Linked DNA regions of Homo sapiens: region 2 is linked to region 1. Evidence: fine-mapped expression QTL. A gene starts in region 1. The other region holds a variant in brackets. All regions are shown on one strand. Distances are between the middles of the regions.

The links. PIP is the estimated chance that this variant, and not a neighbour inherited with it, causes the effect. A credible set is the group of variants that fine-mapping cannot tell apart.
Region 2: its variant is the best candidate, but not a certain one, in a credible set for the expression of PCDHGA1 in cerebellar hemisphere (GTEx, PIP 0.68).

The regions. Positions count from the first base shown.
Region 1 is chr5:141,328,573-141,332,840 of GRCh38, forward strand. PCDHGA1 (protocadherin gamma subfamily A, 1) reads left to right here and starts at 1,942. Exons shown (of 4, transcript NM_018912.3): 1 at 1,942-4,268. The coding sequence starts at 2,113. It also overlaps PCDHG@.
Region 2 is chr5:141,303,050-141,307,317 of GRCh38, forward strand. It overlaps SLC25A2 (solute carrier family 25 member 2), which reads right to left and starts at 1,000. Exons shown (of 1, transcript NM_031947.4): 1 at 1-1,000. The coding sequence starts at 816. The variant C/T (reference allele first, on the strand shown) is at 2,648.

The DNA of each region.
Region 1 (4,268 bases):
GCCTTGATCTCCATGCTGTTTCTCCTCAGTGTGACTCTGGCCATCTCTCTGAACCTGCAATGCCCCCTATAGCTCCATTGCCTGGGGCTGTTTTCAGCTGGATCTCTGGTCCAAGCCCGGATATGGAGTTGTCTCCAACTTAAAGAAAGGAAATTTGCCCTGTTCCTACAACGTATGTGTGGTTTTAGATATTTTTAAAATCTTAATTTCTTTAACTCAAGAAACAGCTTTGAACCAGGTATTCTCTGCAGTGCCAGCAATGAAGCTTTGTTTTATTTTTGTTTTTGTAGAAACGGGGTTCACTATATTGACCAAGCTGGTCTCAAACTCCTGGCCTCAAGTAATCTGCCCACCTTGGCCTCCCAAAGTGCTGGGATTGCAGGCGTGAGCCACTGTGTGTGGGCAGCAATGAAGCTTTAAATGTTGCATTTGATTCAAATGTATTTGTGTGATATTTTAACATTTTTATTTTATACTTACCATCCTTTTATAAATCACTCCTGCGTGTTTTTGGTTGCTGAAAGTAGGGAGCTCTACAGGTTTACTTACTAGTTCTTATGTATATTTTAATTTACCTCATTAGCTCACAATTTCTTTGGGGAAAAGTTTATGCCTATTAATGTGTATTCTGAAAAGTTACATTCTCTGTTAAAGAGTTACTTCCTTGCAATATTGAAGATGATTTATTGCACCTTTAAATTTCTACTCTTTGGCTCCATGTACTTGTCTTTGAGAAGCTGAGAAACTGTAGATTTGGTTAAGAACTAAAGTTCTCTTTCCAAAAACTATTATTGAGACCTTTCATTGTTTTCTTTCTTTCCTCATTTTTAACTTTTCTCAGTCATGGTGTCCATGGGTTGGCTGGCCGAATTTGTTCCTGAAATTATCAGACTCTGGAGTACAGATAGCATGCTTCTCTAACTTTGGGGTAAAGATAAGTAAGTCACTCTAAGCCTGAGACATTTTAATTAGTAACCCTTTGCTAATAGTGCAGTGATTAAAAAAAAAAGAAGGCCACATCCTCAACTGGTTAAAAAATACTGTTAAGAGAAAACCAACTTCTCTTGGAGAAAATATTAAGTGCGATTATAGAGGAATACATATTATAAGAGCCTATCTAAAAATAAAGATGAGACCATTTTTCTTTTCAGCTGTGAAGAATAATATCATAGACTTTGTCTCTGAAATTTGAAATCTAAATTATATATTCATGTGACTTTTCAATGAAATTCCAAGAGCCCAGTTTTATTTTTTTCAAAATATATTGCCTTTGGTGAATCTTAAGAATTTTTTAAAAACCCACATAATGCAAAGACACTTCAAAAAAAAAAAAGAGGAAAAATAAGGATAGGGTTAAACCATGCTCTTCAAAATCCCAAGGTTTCTGATAAATATTCAAATCATAATGGGAAGGAAATGGGATGGTATGATTTTTTTAAAGTCTAGCTTATATTCTAAAAGATTATTTTTCCCTCTAATACTTTTCACCCTCCAGTCAAAGGGGAGCTGCTCTATGTGGCCTGGGAAATTACCAAGTGGTCAAACTTTACTACAGAAAAAGTGGAGAGATGATTTTGTCCTCATTGTAATGTTAGGTTTTTACTATAATTCCCTGAATAGCAAACTTGGAAAGCAGATAACATGGGAATACTTGGATTCTCCTGTATATTTCAATTTGGTGACATTTAGGCACATTTAAAGAAGTGAACATATAGTTTCTCTTTTTCATACATATATTGTAGAATTATTTCCTTGACAATAGACTAAAACTTAAGAAAATAACAAGTTAATGAGAAGGTTTTCAGTATTTGCTAGGAATGCAGTAACTGGTTAGGACTGTGGGCGCCGCTGTTCACTAATCTGGTAGATACAGGCAGTACACACAGGTCAGGAGGAGGAAAAAAAAAAAAAAGAAAAAGAAAAAAGCTCTCGTGCCTCTTAGAACCTCCATAACCGCCAGATTGAAAACTGACTGTCCAAGACTGCCTAAATCCTACTTCTGGATGACTCTCCAGTCAGAATTCTCCTGAAAATTGGGTTAATTTCAGCTCAGAAAAGCAGAAACGATACCCTTGGTACTGGACTGGAAGAAAACTACGAAGTGAGAGAGCCATGAAGATTCAGAAAAAGCTGACTGGCTGCAGCAGGCTGATGCTTCTGTGTCTTTCTCTGGAGCTGCTGTTGGAAGCTGGGGCTGGGAATATTCACTACTCAGTGCCGGAAGAGACAGACAAAGGTTCCTTCGTAGGCAACATCGCCAAGGACCTAGGGCTGCAACCCCAGGAGCTGGCAGATGGCGGAGTCCGCATCGTCTCCAGAGGTAGGATGCCGCTTTTCGCTCTGAATCCTAGAAGTGGCAGCTTGATCACCGCGCGCAGGATAGACCGGGAGGAGCTCTGCGCTCAGAGCATGCCGTGTCTCGTGAGTTTTAATATCCTTGTTGAGGATAAAATGAAGCTTTTTCCTGTTGAAGTAGAAATAATTGATATTAATGACAACACTCCCCAATTCCAGTTAGAGGAACTGGAGTTTAAAATGAATGAAATAACGACTCCAGGTACCAGAGTCTCATTGCCTTTTGGGCAAGACCTTGATGTGGGTATGAACTCACTCCAGAGCTACCAACTCAGCTCTAACCCTCATTTCTCCCTGGATGTGCAACAGGGAGCCGATGGGCCTCAACATCCAGAGATGGTGCTGCAGAGTCCCTTAGACAGAGAAGAAGAAGCTGTCCACCACCTCATCCTCACAGCTTCTGATGGGGGTGAACCAGTCCGTTCAGGGACCCTCAGAATTTACATTCAGGTGGTGGATGCAAATGACAATCCTCCAGCATTTACTCAGGCACAATACCATATAAATGTCCCCGAAAACGTGCCGCTGGGTACTCAGCTGCTCATGGTAAATGCCACTGACCCTGATGAGGGAGCCAATGGGGAAGTAACGTACTCCTTTCACAATGTAGACCACAGAGTGGCCCAAATATTTCGTTTAGATTCTTACACAGGAGAAATATCAAATAAAGAACCACTAGATTTCGAAGAATACAAAATGTATTCAATGGAAGTTCAAGCCCAGGATGGTGCGGGGCTCATGGCTAAAGTTAAGGTACTGATCAAAGTTTTGGATGTAAATGATAATGCCCCAGAAGTGACCATCACCTCTGTCACCACTGCAGTTCCAGAAAACTTTCCTCCTGGGACCATAATTGCTCTTATCAGTGTGCATGACCAGGACTCAGGAGACAATGGCTACACCACATGTTTCATTCCTGGAAATTTACCCTTTAAATTGGAAAAGTTAGTTGATAATTATTACCGTTTAGTGACTGAAAGAACACTGGACAGAGAACTTATCTCTGGGTACAACATCACAATAACAGCAATAGACCAAGGAACTCCAGCTCTATCTACTGAAACTCACATTTCACTACTAGTGACAGATATCAATGACAACTCCCCAGTCTTCCATCAGGACTCCTACTCTGCCTACATTCCCGAAAACAACCCCAGAGGAGCCTCCATCTTCTCTGTGAGGGCCCACGACTTGGACAGCAATGAGAATGCACAAATCACTTACTCCCTAATAGAGGACACTATCCAGGGGGCACCCCTATCTGCCTACCTCTCCATCAACTCCGACACTGGGGTCCTGTATGCGCTGCGATCCTTCGACTATGAGCAGTTCCGGGACATGCAACTGAAAGTGATGGCGCGGGACAGTGGGGATCCGCCCCTCAGCAGCAACGTGTCTCTCAGCCTATTCCTGCTGGACCAGAACGACAACGCGCCCGAGATCCTGTACCCCGCCCTCCCCACAGATGGTTCTACCGGCGTGGAGCTGGCGCCCCTCTCCGCAGAGCCCGGCTACCTGGTGACCAAGGTGGTGGCGGTGGACAGAGACTCGGGCCAGAACGCCTGGCTGTCCTACCGCCTGCTCAAGGCCAGCGAGCCGGGACTCTTCTCGGTGGGTCTGCACACGGGCGAGGTGCGCACGGCGCGAGCCCTGCTGGACAGAGACGCGCTCAAGCAGAGTCTCGTGGTGGCCGTCCAGGACCACGGCCAGCCCCCGCTCTCCGCCACTGTCACGCTCACCGTGGCCGTGGCCGACAGGATCTCCGACATCCTGGCCGACCTGGGCAGCCTCGAGCCCTCCGCCAAACCCAACGATTCGGACCTCACTCTGTACCTGGTGGTGGCGGCGGCCGCGGTCTCCTGCGTCTTCCTGGCCTTCGTCATCGTGCTGCTGGCGCACAGGCTGCGGCGCTG
Region 2 (4,268 bases), 26 kb before region 1:
AGTAGCTTTCAGTCCAGAATATAAGGCTACTATTCCTTCATTTCTCACAACACTTAAGAGGGTACCAATAAATCCTGCCTGTTTCCCATACATGGAAAGAACTTGAATTCTGGATTTAATACAATCCACTGGGAACACGACAAGCCACAGGCAAATTCCAGCAACTCCACCACTTAACATCAAATGGACAGGGCCTAGTTCATCTTTTGATCTCCCTGACGCAAAAAACGATCGGCTCAGTTCATAGCCACCAAAGAAAAAGAAATAACCCGGTACTTCTTGAAGTAGAGTACTCGAGAGTCCATGGTAGAAGCCCAAGGGGCCATCCTTTTTAAGGATACCCTTCACGACAGACCAAATTGTATTATGGCTTTTTGCTATCTTCCCTGACATCTCCATTTCATACATGGTCTGTAGCCGGCACTTCACAAGCTCAGTGGGGCAGAGAGCCAGTGCAGCAAATGCAGAGGCGAAGGACCCCGCGGCTGCAGTCTGGAGATCACTCAGCTTTGCCTGCTTGTCCATTCCAGCCACTTTCCTGACAAACTGCTGGCAGAACCCGTAGCACATGAAGAGGACCGAGTTTTCGGCGACGTAGGCCATAAGTGCCGGGCCGGTGCCCTTGTAGAAGCCCCGGAGACCCACTTGAGCGTATGTCTTCAGGAAGCAGTCGGTGAGGCCCTTGTACAGGTCAGGGAACGTCTGCATCTTCACTTTTATTGTGTCGAAGGGCTGCCCAGTCAGTACACACGCTGTCCCCCCTGCGGCCCCCGCTGTGAGGTCGATGGCGGCTTGGATGCCAGGACCGGACTTCATGTTCGCTCACTCGTCTGAGGGTCCCAGTGGAAGGCGACTAACTCCCCAGAGCGTGAGACCGGCTTTTCACGTCCAGCCGCAGCGAGCGCGGGGAATGGAGTTGGGGGTGGTGGGGTGGCTCTACCGCCTGTTCTGGGCTCTCACCCCAGTGCGGGGGAAGCCGCTCAACCCTACGCTCCGCCGCGGGCCGCCCCCTCCCCGCGCACTAAAATAACCCCCAGCTGCCGGCCCAGCGCGCGGCTCACTAGCGTTCCTGCGGCTCCTGGCGCACTGGCCGGGCCCCCAGCCGCCTCCAGCCTGGAGCCGCCATCCCTGCACCCGCAGGCGGGGGACGCGGACCGAATAAATACTTTTAGTGTACTGCGACTGGGCGCGGTGGCTCACTCCTGTATCCCAGCACTTTGGGAGGCCGAGGCGGGAGGATCGCTTGAGCCCAGGAGATCGAGACCAGCCTGGGCAATATGGCAAGACTCCATTTCTACAAAAACGAAAAAATACCCGGGCGCGATGGCGCGCGCCTGTGGTCCCAGCAATTCAGGAGAATGAAGCGAGGATCGCTTGAACCCGGGAGGTCGATGCTGCAGTGAGCTATGATCGCACACTGCACTCCAGGGTGGGCGAAAGGGTGAGGCTCTGTCTCAAAACAAAACCAAAACCAAGAAAACATGTAAAGCTTTTCGATAAATTCTTGCAATTATGGCCGGGAACTCTAGACGCCGCAGTTCAGCTGGCGGCAAAAGAAATGCTGTCCTAATCAGTCAGCCCTGCTTCTTTTCTTTTCTCTCTTTTTTTTTTTTTTGACTTAGGGTCTCACTCGGCCGCCTAAGCTGGAGTTCAGTGGCGCGATCCTGGCTCACTGCAGCCCCAATCTCCTGGCCTCAGGCGATCCTCTCACCTCAGCCTCCTGAGTAGCTGAGACTAGAGGGACTACAGGCGCAAGCCACCACATCTGGCTAAATTTTGTATTGTACAGACGGGGTTTCGCCATGTTGCCCAGGCTAGTCTCGAACTCCTGAACTCAAGCAATCCACCCACTGGCCTCCCAAAGTGTTGGGGCTTACAAGCATGAACCACCACACCCGGCCTATCCCACGCTTCTTACCATGCAAAAAACAAAAACAAACAACCCGAAAAGAAGATGCCCTCACTTGAATAGACCCTGAATTCAGAGGGTCAATCTACAAGAAAACTGCTTTAAAGTAGATAAGACAGGCCAGGTGTGGTGGCTCATGCCTGTAATCCCAACACTTGGAGAGGCTGCGGAGGGAGGCTCATTTGAGCCTAGGAGTTCAAGGCTAGCTTGGGCAGCAAAATGAGACACCCCTTACCCCCTACAAAAAATAAAGTAGAGAAGACAAACTGTCAGAGGCGCTGGAACCACAGCAACTCCATCTTGACTAGGGACTGAGTAAAATAAGGCCGAGACCTACTGGACTGCATTCCCAGGAAGACAGGCATTCTAAGTCACAGGATGAGATAGGAGGCCGGCACAAGATACGGGTCACAAAGACCTTGCTGATAAAACAGGTTTCAGTAAAGAAGCCAGCCAAATCCCACCAGAATCAAGATGGCATAATAAGTGACCTCTGGTCGTCCTTACTGCTCATTATACGCCAATTATAATGCATTAGCATGCTAAAAGACACGCCCACCAGCGCCGTGTCCACTTACAGATGCCATGGCAACAATAAGAAGTGACCCTATGTGGTCTAAAAAGGGGGAGGAATCCTCAGTTCCGGTAACTTTGGACCCCTTTCCCAGAAACCTCATGAATAATCCACCCCTTGTTTAGCTTACATTCAATAAAAAACTGTAAGTATCCTTAGTCAAG[C/T]CGCCCAGGCCACTGCTGTGCCTATGGAGTAGCCATTCTTTTGCTTCTTTACTTCTCTAATAAACTTGCTTTCACTTGACTCTATGAACTTGCCCCAAATTATTTCTTGCATGAGATCCAAGAACAATCTCTTGGGTCTGGATCGGGACCCCTGTCCGGTAACGAAACGATCTGAGGGTTGCTACATGAGAGACAGTGACTGCTTTTGATCAGAAAACCCTCAGCGATCTGCCCACGCTCCTCACTTTCCTGGGGGGCAAGGAGGGGAGTAGGGCACTGTGGGAATCCTTAGCCCTGGAGATGTGCTACTGCTTTCCTGCAGAGCTGGAGAAATGCTATCACATGGCAACATCCCCAAGGATCTGGGGTTGCAGCCCTGGGAACTGGTGGAACGTGGAGTCCTTATCATTTCTGAAGATAGAACACGGCACTATAAAATCAACTTGGAAAATGGATAGTATTTATATACTGCATTGCTAAGAAACTTGATAGAAAAGAGCTGGGTGGCTCAGCACTATGCTTTCTAAGTTTTGAGATTCTCTTTGAGGACCCACACAGCCTCATGCAGAAGTAGAAATTTGTCGTTTGTACACTGTTGGTGGGAATGTAAAATAGTTCAACCCCTATGGAAAGCAGTATGGAGATTTCTCAAAGAACTAAAAATAGAACACCCATTCAACCCAGCAATCCCACTATTAGGTATCTACCCAAAGGAAAAGAAATCATTTTATCAAAAAGACACCTGTGCTGGGGACAGTGACTTACACCTGTAATCCCAGAATTTTGGGAGCCCAAGCCAGGTAGATCGCTTGAGCCCAGGAGCTCCAGACCAGCCTGGACAACATGGCAAAATGCCATCTCTACAAAAAAATACAAAAAGTAGCCATGCATGATGGCATGCCCCTGTAGTGGCAGCTACACAGGAGGCGGAGATGGGAGGATTGACTGAGCTGAGTTGGAGGCTGCAGTGAGTTATGATCCAGCCTGGGTGGCAAAACAAGACCCTGTCTCCAAAAAAAAAACCAGAAAACATCTACACTCATATGTTTATGGAAGCACTATTCACAACAGGAAAGTCACAGAATCAATGTAAGTGTTCATCAATAGTTGATTGGATAAAGAAAATGTGGTATATGTATACCACGGAATACTATGCAGCCATAAAAAAGAATGAAATTATGTCCCTCACAACATGGATGGAGCTGGGGGCTGTTATTCTAGGTGAAATATCTTAGAACCAGAAAATCAAATACTGCATGTTCTCACTTATATAAGTGGGAGCTAAACAATGGGTACACAAAGACATAAAGATGGGAATAACAGACACTGGGGAATCCAAAAGTGGGGAGGGTGGGAGGGATTGAGGGTTGAAAACCTACCTGTTGGGTACTACATTCACTATGTGGGTGACGGGTTCACTAGAAGCCCAAACCTCAGCGTTACACAACATACCCATGTAACACACCTGCACATGTACTCCTTGAATCTAAAATGAAATTCAATTTAAAAAGAAGTAGAAGTTCGGGATACAAATGACATGTCTAGCTTTCAAAGCAAGATGTTTTTTGGACATTAGTGAGGATACCACTGTCAGGACACACTTCTTCCTCCCAGATATTTA